Regions from separate parts of the Homo sapiens genome. Here region 1 is linked to region 2. Evidence: fine-mapped expression QTL. A gene starts in region 2. The other region holds a variant in brackets. All regions are shown on one strand. Distances are between the middles of the regions.

Evidence for each region. PIP is the estimated chance that this variant, and not a neighbour inherited with it, causes the effect.
Region 1: its variant is fine-mapped to the expression of PPEF1 in whole blood (TOPMed, PIP 0.95).

Annotation. Positions count from the first base shown.
Region 1 is chrX:18,674,447-18,679,822 of GRCh38, reverse strand. It overlaps TRV-TAC1-2 (tRNA-Val (anticodon TAC) 1-2), which reads left to right and starts at 4,842; the gene lies at 4,842-4,914. It also overlaps a transcript of PPEF1 not described here. RefSeq lists a silencer at 4,731-4,917. The variant T/C (reference allele first, on the strand shown) is at 2,987.
Region 2 is chrX:18,705,302-18,710,677 of GRCh38, reverse strand. PPEF1 (protein phosphatase with EF-hand domain 1) reads right to left here and starts at 3,033. Exons shown (of 16, transcript NM_001377996.1): 1 at 2,852-3,033. The coding sequence starts at 2,897.

The DNA of each region.
Region 1 (5,376 bases), 31 kb after region 2:
AACTGTGCTTGGCCAGTAAGAGGATTTATAACCAGAGAGGCACAAGCCTTGTAGGCCACTGTAAGGCTTCAGCTTTTCTAGTTGAGGTAGGGAGCCATTGAAGGGTTTTGCACAGAATGATGAGAGCTAATCTGAATCTTGAAAGGACCACTCTGGCTACTGTGTGGAGAATAGTCTGTAGGGGGGAAAGGGCAGAAGCTGAAAGGCCAAGATCTGAGGCTACTGGCTATGATCCAGGCAAAATGTGATAGTGGCTTTGATTAGAGTGTAGCTGGGGAGATGACAGAAAGCTAGCATAGATAGATCTTGCAGGTGGTGCCAATAAGCTTTGCTAGTAAGATTACACTGGGGGTGTAAGAAAAAGAAGAATCAAGTATGATTCTTAGTTTTAGGCCTAAATAGCTGGAAAGATGAAGCTGCCATTATCTGCGATAAAGAAAACAGAGGCCAGGCACGGTGGCTCACGCCTGTAATCCCAACACTTTGAGAGACCGAGGTGGGTGAATCACTTGAGGCCAGGAGTTTAAGAACAGCCTGGCCAAAACAGCAAAAGCCCATCTCTACTAAAAATACAGAAAAAAATCAGCCGGATGTGGTGGCGCACGCCTGTGATCCCAAGTACTCGGGAGGCTGAGGCACGAGAATTGTTTGAACCCAGGAGGTGGAGGTTGCAGTGAGCTAAGATGGCGCTGCTGCACTCCAGCCTGGGTGACAGAGCAAAACTGTCTCCAAAAAAGAAAAACAGATCAAGAGAGAAGCGGATTTAGGGGCAGAGATCAGAAGCGTGGACACAGACATGTGAGATGCCTAACCTAACAGACATCTAAATGGAGATGTTGAACATGTAGGTCTGGAGTTTGAGAGAAAAGTCTAGACTAGAGATACACACTGGAATCTTCTAGGTTCTCAAGGGTATTGAAAGCCATTAGATTGAATGAGGTCGCTGGGGTGGTGAGAACAAATAGAGAAGTCCAAGCACCGAGACCTCTGAGGTACGGCTGTGTTTAAAGGTCAAAGAGATGAGGCTCCAGCAAAAGTGACCAAAAAGGAGTATGCAGTGAGAGGAAATAAACATCGCGAGAGGTCCGCATCCTAAAAGCCGAGGGGAAGGTACCTCAAAACAGAGTGATGGGTTGTTTTCAATGCTGCTAGTAGATCAAATCTGATGAAAAGGAAGAGCTATTCTGTGTAGCAATGTGGAAATCACTGGATCAGAGGAATTTTGGTGGAGTGCTGGAACAAGTCCCAGTGGGGGGACAGAACTGGAGAGAGCACCAGACCAATCTAAGAACTGTATTATAAAGGAGAGCAGAGACATGGAAGTGGCACAGGTGGAAGTGGAATTAAGAGCTTTTTTCCTGTTTTTTTGCTTTTGTTTTCGTTTTTGAGACGGGGTCTCACTCTGTCGCCCAGGCTGGAGTGCAGTGATGCGATCTCAGCTTGTTGCAGCCTCGACCTCCCCAGGCTCAAGGGATCCTCCCTGCCTCAGTCCTCCAGAGTAACTGGGACTACAGGTGTGCGCCACCATGCCTGGCTAAGTTTTTTGTATTTTTTTATAGAGATGGGGTTTTGCCATGTTGGCCAGCCTGGTCTTGAACTCCTGAGCTCAAGCAATCCGCCCGCCTCAGCTTCCCGAAGTGCTGGGATTATAAGCGTGAGCCATCGCACCCGGCTTTTTTTTTTTTTTTTTTTTTGCCAGGTTCTCACTCTGTCACCCAGGCTGGAGTGCAGCGGTGCAATCATGGCTCACGACAGCCTCGACCTCCTGAGCTCAAGGGATTCTGCCCGCCTCACTCCCCCAGAGTAGCTGGCACCACAGGATGTTTGGCAGCGCCCCGGCCTCTCCCTCCTGGGTGCCTATAGTACCCCTCTCCCAGTCATAACCAACAAAAGCGTCTCCAGATATTGCCAAAGAACTCCCAAGATTTTGTCCCCCAGGGGACATTTTGGGTCATCACAACTGGGTGGTGGGGGAGGATGTGTGCTACACGCATCCAGTGAATAGAGGCCAGGGATGCTGCAAAACATCCTACAATACACGGGACAGCCTCCTACGACAGAGTTAGCCAGTCCCAACCCATCCTGATCCAGAGGAAGAGCACGAGAGCAGACGGTGGCTGGCAGGGGACTTCCAGAAGTTCTCTTCTGATTGCTTCCATTTTTTCACCGCAATAGGAAGCTAGATCATCAGCTGTAACCGAGATTAGGGTTGGGGGTACAGGAGGTTTACGGAGATAAGACATGAAACCGTCCTTAGAAGTGGACACGTATTCTGGACTGCAGAAAGGGTTCACTTGAGCTAAGCAGTCATGAATTTAGTGTGAAACCAGTCAGCTTGGATGTGTTCTTCTTGGGCCATGTTCAGGGGCAGGGTAGGGAGACAGTCAGATGTAAGAGATTGTGGTTTTACCAACAAGCACAAGGAAGAAATGAAAGGGCAAACAAGCAAGTGATAAAAATGACCACAGAATTTGAGCTGGGTGGGGCCGGGCGCGGTGGCTTACGCCTGCAATCCCAACACTTCAGGAGGCCGAGGTGGGCGGATCACTTGAGGCCAGGAGTTTGAGATCAACCTGGCCAACATGGTGAAACCCCATTTCTACTAAAAATACAAAAAGTAGGCCAGGTATGGTGGGGGGGCGCCTGTAATCCCAGCTACTTGGGTGGCTGAGGCAGGAGAATTGCTCGAACGGGAGGCAGAGGTTGCAGTGAGCTGAGATCGTGCCACTGCACTCCGGCCTGGGCAACAGAGCGAGACTCCGTCTTAAAAAAAAAAAAAAAAAAAAAGATTGTGATGACACCTTGCGAGGGGCGGCGGGGAGAACAGAACACAGTTTCCCTCCTGGAATGGAGAAAAGGAACAAGAGTTTTTCACCAAAGGCAGATACCTGTGTCGCATGCAACAGAGGGACACCAGCTTCTTTTCTGCACAGAGGTTAAGCATGCAACAGAGGGACACCAGCTTCTTTTCTGCACAGAGGTTAAG[T/C]GTGGGAACTTGGCAAACATACCTTTATACCCAGGGGCAGACAGAAAAATCGGGATGTGGGGGGCTGGAGAGCAAAGCATTTCCTAGAGACACCATCCAAAACACAACCAGTGGGTGTAACTTTAGGGCCAGTTCCTGGCAGTCTTGTTTTCGACCGCTAGGGGTTTGGAAACAGGTGGGATACACTTATTATCAGGCTTCCCAGGAGTCCTGAGGCTCACTGACTAGTGGGAAACGTGGAGCTCTCAGGAACGTATCCTCCGGCCGGTGGCTGGCCACTCTGGTCATCTCGTGGCCCACAATCTAGGCATCAAGCGCTCGAGAGGCCTCTGAAAACGTCTCACCAAAAAAGCAGACTAGAAGGGGGCCCCATGATGAATATGACAGGGAGCTAACTGAGGACATCGGGAAACGGGTACTAGAAAAACCCACGCCACTAGCTGGCCTGCCTCTACTTCTGGGCGGGGGGCGGGGGTGTGTGTGTGGGGGGGATTACATGGCAGATAACTGCCTCCGTTTTCCTACGTGGAAGATGGGCATAACATTGAGACCCAGAGGTGAAAGGGGACGTGTTTAGTCCAACCCTTGTATTTACAAAGGAGGAGACTGAGACCAGAGGTGAACTGACTAGCTCGAGCACCCAGCTCATGAATGGCCAAATCAAGACGAACATCCAGATCCCCACCTTAGTGTTCCCTGCACCCACCTGGTTTCTTCCAGAGGCCTTCCCAGGAAGACAGGAGTTGGCTGAAGGGAGTTCCTGCCACAAAATCAGTATCACTTATCAACCTACCGACCTCAGCAGAAGATCCAGAGAAAAGGACAGCTGCTGCCTGCAGACCAAGTTCACCTGGGCGCTTAAAGATGCCCCCCCCCCCCCGCCCAAATGATTGCAGGTGGGTTTTCAAGCTTGAGAATGGTGAGCAATCCTAGGGTGGTGACGAAGATCCACCTGGAAGCCCTGAAGAAGGCAAATGACACTGACGATGAAAAACAAGAATCACCCTTTGTGATGGAGGGTCCCAGCCCGTTACCCAGACTACAGTCCTGCAAGCAAGTCAGGGACCCCGCACCAGGTTGAATACTCTGCTGTTACCGTGTGAAATTCTCAAAAACTTAACAAGGGGCCTGGCATCTTCATTTTGCACTGGGCCCCTCAATCACGTGGCCAGGGCCGCTGCCACCCTGGAAGCCATAGACGGGTGGCCCCGTCTACACGTCTTCGTCCCCCAACCCCTGCAGCCCTAGACTAAGGAGACCTAACGGAAGCCCTGGCATTTGCACCCCCTAGGCCTGTCCTCGGGAGGGGAAGAAGGCTGCGGGAAGGGGCAGGGGAGCGGGTAGAGGTCCACACCCTCGGGCAAAGGGCCCGCTAACCAGCGGCCCGTCCTCCTTGCTCCGGAGGCGAAGCCTTCCACGCCGCCGCAAGCGGCGACGTCCTGACTTCCGACCGGCAAGTGGGCCGGGTGGCCGAGGCTCAGTTTGCCGGTTGGGAAAATGGGAAGGCGCGGGGCCCTCGCGGGCGGAGGAAGCTGCCGGGGGCGCAAAGCCCGAGCAGGGTGCACTTCCGGCCGCCGGGCCGCCCCGCCGGCGCCTCGATTGAGGGAAAGTTTGGGGACAGATGATAGCAGGGAGGTGCTCTCGGCCGGGGTTCCGGCCTCGCCCTGGTCCCAGGGGCCGCGACTGTGGCGGGCAGGGAAGACAAGCCGCCCAAACGCCGGAGCCCGAGACTCGAAGCCGCCGCAAACTCCTCGCCTCGGGGGCGGGGTCACGGTGGAGAGGCGGGGCTCCGGCGGAGGGACCGGAACTGCTGTGAGTCTATGAATAAAGTCCCAACAATATTCTTCCTCGTAGAGGTTCCATAGTGTAGTGGTTATCACGTCTGCTTTACACGCAGAAGGTCCTGGGTTCGAGCCCCAGTGGAACCATAGCCGTAAGGCGGCTGTTTTTGCTTTTATAGGGTTTCGTTGTTTGGGTTAAAAAAAAAAAAGGGTTTGGGTTAAACAAACAAAAAAAACCAAAAAGCGACAACGAAGTGTTTTTCTTTGTCCTTTTTTTCTTTTTAATTTTTTGGCATGTTTTTCTCGCAGAAGTGAAATGACAGATACCCTCTCCTATCCCACAAGGTCACTGCCGCCATAGTCCGACATGAGAAGTAGTGGAGGGCAGGGGCCGGGCGAAGTCCTAGACCCGATCCGGCGCCCCCGATCCGGCCGGGCCCTACCCCACCTCTCCTCCCAGTACGCCTCGGAAAATCGGGCGCTCGGGGAATGCACCTGGCTGCCCTTTGCCTGCAAGCCAGCAAGGGCCGGCCACCCAACCTCCAACTAAAATGTGGCAGGCAATACAGCAGCGCTTTGACTGCAGGTGAATTATTAAAGGTCGGTCAT
Region 2 (5,376 bases):
ATTTTTTGACTTTTTAGTAATAGCCATTCTGACCGGTATGTAAGGTGGTATCTCATTATGGTTTCAATTTGCATTTACCTGATGATTAGTGATGTTGAGCATTTTTTTCGTGTGTTTGTTAGCCATTTGTATGCCTTCTTTTGAAAAAATGTCTGTTCATGACCTTTGCCCACTTTTTAATGGAGTTATCTTTTTTTTCTTGTTGAGTTGTTACAAAACTCTTAAAGTAAGACGTGAGCAAAAATCTTTTTGGACTCGGGAATGGATTCTTAGATATGACACCAAAATCACAAGCAACCAAAGAAAAAATAAAGTGAACTTCATCAAAAGTAAAAACTTTTGTGCTTCAAAGAACACCATTAAGAAAGGATGAAGAGAATTCAACAAATGAGAGAAAATATTTGCAAGTCACATATTTGATAGGAAACTTGTATCTAGAATATATAAATTTATCTTACAACAATATAAAAATAAATAATTCAATTAAAAATGGGTAAATGATCTGAATAGACATTTCTCCAAAGCAGATATACAAATAGCCAATAAACACATGAAAAGATGCTCAATGTCATTAGTCACTACTGAAATACAAATGAAAACCATGGTGTGATACCACTTCATACCCACTAGGATGACTAAAATCAAAAGGACAGACAATAACAACTATCGCTGAAAATGTGGAGAAATTGAAACCTTTATACACTGCTGGTAGGAATGTAGAATGGTGCAGTCACTTGGGAAAACAGCTTGGAAATTTCTCAAAATGTTAAACATAAAGCTACCGTATGACCCAGCAATTCCACTTCTAGGTATATACCCAAGAGAACGGAAAACATATGTTCACAGCAGCATTGTTCATAACAGTCAAAAAGCTGAAACAGGTCGGGCACAGTGGCTCACGCCTGTAATCCTAGCGCTTTGGGAGGCCGAGGCGGGCAGATCACCTGAGGTCAGGAGTTCGAGACCAGCCTGGCCAACATGGTGAAACCCTGTCTCTACCAAAAATACAAAAATTAGCTAGGTGTGGTGGTGTGTGCCTGTAATCCCAGCTACTCCAGAGGCTGAGGCAGGAGAATCGCTTGAACCTGGGAGGCGGAGGTTGCAGCGAGCCGAGATCGCCCCACTGCACTCCAGCCTGGGTGACAGAGCAAGACTGTCTCAAAAAAAACAAAAAACAAAAAACAAAGCTGAAACAATCCAAATGTCTATCAATTGATGAATGGATAAATACAATGTGGCATATTCATACAATGAAATATTATTCCACAATAAAAAGGAATATAGTACTGATACATGCTACAACATGGACAAAGCCAGACACAAAAGGTCACATAATATATGACTCCATTTACATGAAATGTCCAGAATAGATAAATCCATAGAGACTGAATATAGATTTGTGGTTGCCAGGGGCTGAGAGGAGAAAGTGCTTAATGGATAAGGGGTTTTACTTTGGAGTGTTGGAAATGTCTCAGAAGTACATAGGGGTTGTGGTTGCACGACACTGTGAACATACCAACTGCTGCTGAGTTGTTCACTTGACAATGGCTAATTTTATGTTACGTGAATTTCACCTCAATAAATCACAGGTATTTGAAAGAAAAAGCAATCCAAAAATCTAAGCTAATATTTCCACTTACATGCAATGTTTTAAAAGTTGAAAAGTATTTCAAAAAGAGAGAGGATTTGTTTTTACAAGTTGGACTTGGCTTTTTTTTTTTTAACCTAGGAAATTTGGCTAAATTTAAAGAACTGTGAGTAATCCTAGATATAAAAAGATAATTTCTCTTTACTCTCTGCTAATAAACGTCTACTACAGCAGTAGAGTTCAGATGGAGCTTTTGAAAGATTTATTTCATGACATGCTTAAAGATTTGAAAGAGTCAGTACACCTCCTATGTCCCTTCCTACTTTCAGAGATGAGTTTCCTACATCATCAGCACAAGTCAGCTGGGTAGGAGAATAACATTTGATTCCCAAAGTAAAACATCCCACGCTAATTAGTATAGCACACTCTGCATCCTAAACCCTCCACCTTAAGCCTGAATAAACTTCCAAAGGCAAGACGTGGAATAGAAGTTGGGGGAATTACCTATAACCTAGACATCAAAGAAGTGGAGTTTAAGAGCAAATTACTCATATTAATTGTCCCAGCTTATTTACTTGTTTTTATTTTAATTTGCTTGTTGGAAACTCTATCCCTTAAATGCTCAAGTTTGTTTCAACTAGATGCCAATAGCCATGAGAAAGAACCTCAGTACAAAATAAACAAAGTGAATATTTAAGCTTCTAATTATATGGGGGTACAGAAAGGCATGCCATCTATTTAGAAACAATACACCTTTTTTTTGGAAACAGATGATCTAGCATTCTCCCAATTCTCCTAGATTATTTTTAAAACGTGATGCAAATCTCATGAAGTTCTGTGTTGAATAGATATAGAAATAATGTGATCATTGAGTTATAAAATCCAATAAAAATTCAATGATGCTACTAAATGTCACAAAAGTAGGGATATAGCTATTTATAAAAGTATTGAAGAAACACATATAAATTACACTGCCTTTCTTGTTCCCTGCCACTGAGTTTTAAATTGAGATTTTATATTGGTACATTATCGAATGAAATTAAATCAAACACAAAATATCTCTAAGACAATACTTTATGGTACTTCATAAATTCAAAGCTACATCTTCCTAAATGTAGTTTCCTATGCTACTCTAACGATGCCTTGTGCAAATCACACAGGGCAGCTTGAGCATCGTGGGAGTAAATGAGAAAGGAGAAGAGGGTGAGGGCAGCTCATTTTCCCCTTTTCATTCATAACCACAGGCACATTCCCAGTACTCACATGTGTCAGATCTCCTGGTTTTCGTTGAAGAACTGCTGCATCCCATGACTTCTATCTAAATCATATGTGTTCATGAATTCAACTTCTGATTTTAAGACAGAGTGTGAAAAGTGCCTCCCTTTAAGCTGCGAGGAACCACTCTTAGCCGATCCTCTTCAGTCATAGATTCTAATGAGGAATACACAGGAGGGAGGGAAGGAAACCGCCAGTTAACCACATGGTAGCTGAGGGGCTGCTCAGCAGGATTCATTTTACGCTTCTTCTGAATCGCTGTTCATCATGTGATGTGGAAAGTGATCAGACATAATCTAATCCTGGCTTATTTTCCAAAACACAGCAGCAGCTACAGAGCAGCTATAGGCTGCTTCTCTGCTAGACATAAATGAGTTTCTCCATGTCTAGGTCACATCCAGCTCTGTATAAAATAGAGCATTCAAAATGAAAAGAAAAATCGAAATATGAGAGTGTACGATTTTCTAATTTAAATATGGGGAATGGGATGTGGAGGAGCTGACATAATTAACTGTTTTGGTTTTCAGCTCAAAGTAATTCAACCTATCTAGGCTTTTAAAAACACAAATTGGAAGTTGACTATGAGACAAAAACAACATATTTAACAGCTATGCTGAAATTCAAAGTGAGTTCTTTGACAGTATTTCGCGGAATAAGTTGGGAACATTTGTTTTAAAAAAAAGGAGGCAGCCGGTCGCAGTGGCTCACGCCTGCAATCCCAGCACTTTGGGAGGCCGAGGCGGGCGGATTACGAGGTCAGGAGTTCGAGACCAGCCTGGCCAACATGGTGAAACCCCGTCTCTACTAAAAGTACAAAAATTAGCCAAGCATGGTGGCACATGTCTGTAATCCCAGCTACTCAGGAGGCTGAGGCAGCAGAATCGCTTGAACCCAGGAGGCGGAGGTTGCAGTGAGCTGAGATCGCACCACTGTACTCTAGCCTGGGCGACAAAGCGAGACTCCATCTCAAAAAAAAAAAAAAAAAAAAAAAAAAAAGGAGGTTTGAAACCTCCCCCCAAATTTAGGAATTGTAATCTGTGAGAGTGTCCTTTTATTTATTTTATTTTTTGAGACGGAGTCTCGCTCTATTACCCAGGCTGGAGTGCAGTGGTGTGATCACAGCTCACTGCAGCCTCAACCTCCCAGGCTCAGGTGATCCTCCCGCCTCAGCCTCCCTAGTAGCTGGGACTACAGGCATGCGCCACCACACCTGGCTAATTTTTTGTATTTTTAGTAGAGACGGGGTTTTGCTGTGTTGGCCAGGATGGTCTCGAACTCCTGACCTCAGGTGATCCACCTGCCTCGGCCTCCCAAAGTGCTGGGATGACAGGCGTGAGCCACCGTGCCTGGCCAAGAGTGCCCTTTTAAACAAGCTCTCTGGGCACTGCTGAGGCCCCTCTGGAGTCTAACTTTGTGTTCTATAGTCCTTCTCATGAGCTCCCTGACTCCCATAATCACTTCACGGGAGTTTTCAACAAAATTCCTTTCCATAGTATACTGTCACGTCACTTTTTAGGGTGATGTTTCCTTTATTTTGTGATGCTCCAAACCAACCTGATCTAATATATTTGCATTCCTTTTTTTTTTTTTTTTTTTTCAGACAGGGTCTCACTCTGTCACCCAGGATGGAGTGTAGTGGCACAATCACGGCTCGCTGCAGCCTTAACCTCCCAAGCATGTGCCGTGACACCCGGCTAATTTTATTTTTTTGTAGAGACAGGGTCTCCCTATGTTGCCGAGGCTGGTCTCAAACTCCTGGGCTCAAGTGATCCTCCGACCTTGTCCTCCCAAAGTGCTGGGATCACAGGTGTGAGCCATCTTGCCCAGCCCTATTTGCATTTCTTGACAGGCACAAAGTCAGCAAACAACTGACATATCTATCTTTCCATTGGTACTACACCAAAAGCTTCAAAATTTCAACTCGACTGAAGAAAGGGAAAACTAAAATAAGCAAAATATTTGAACTATGGCCATGTTTTGAAAATAACAATAAGCTTAGTAAACAGATTTTCTGACCAGAGGTGAACCTGATTATTTTATGTATTGAATGAATTAGCCTTCCTAAACTTTGGGTTACTTCCAAATTTTTATTTATTTTTTGAGACAAGGTCTCGCTCTGTCACCCAGGCTGGAGTGCAGTGGCGCAACCATGACTCACTGCAGCCTCCACCTCCCGGGCTCAAGTGATTCTCCTACCTCAGCCTCCTGAGCAGCTGGAACTACAGGCATGCGCCACCATGCCCAGCTAATTTTTGTACTTTTTTGTAGACATGGGGTCTCACCATGTTGCCCAAGTTGGTCTCAAACTCCTGGCCTCAAGCAACGTGCCCACCTCAGCCTCCCAAAGTGCTGGGATGACAGGCATCAGCCACCGTGCTTGGCTTTATTTCCAAATTCGATAGGCATTTCTTTCGTGTCTTCCTTATCTACATCATGGCTAAAGAACATTAACAAGATCAGATCCAAGGGCAGGATGAGCCCTGTGGCATCCCACTCCAAACCATCCTCCAGGT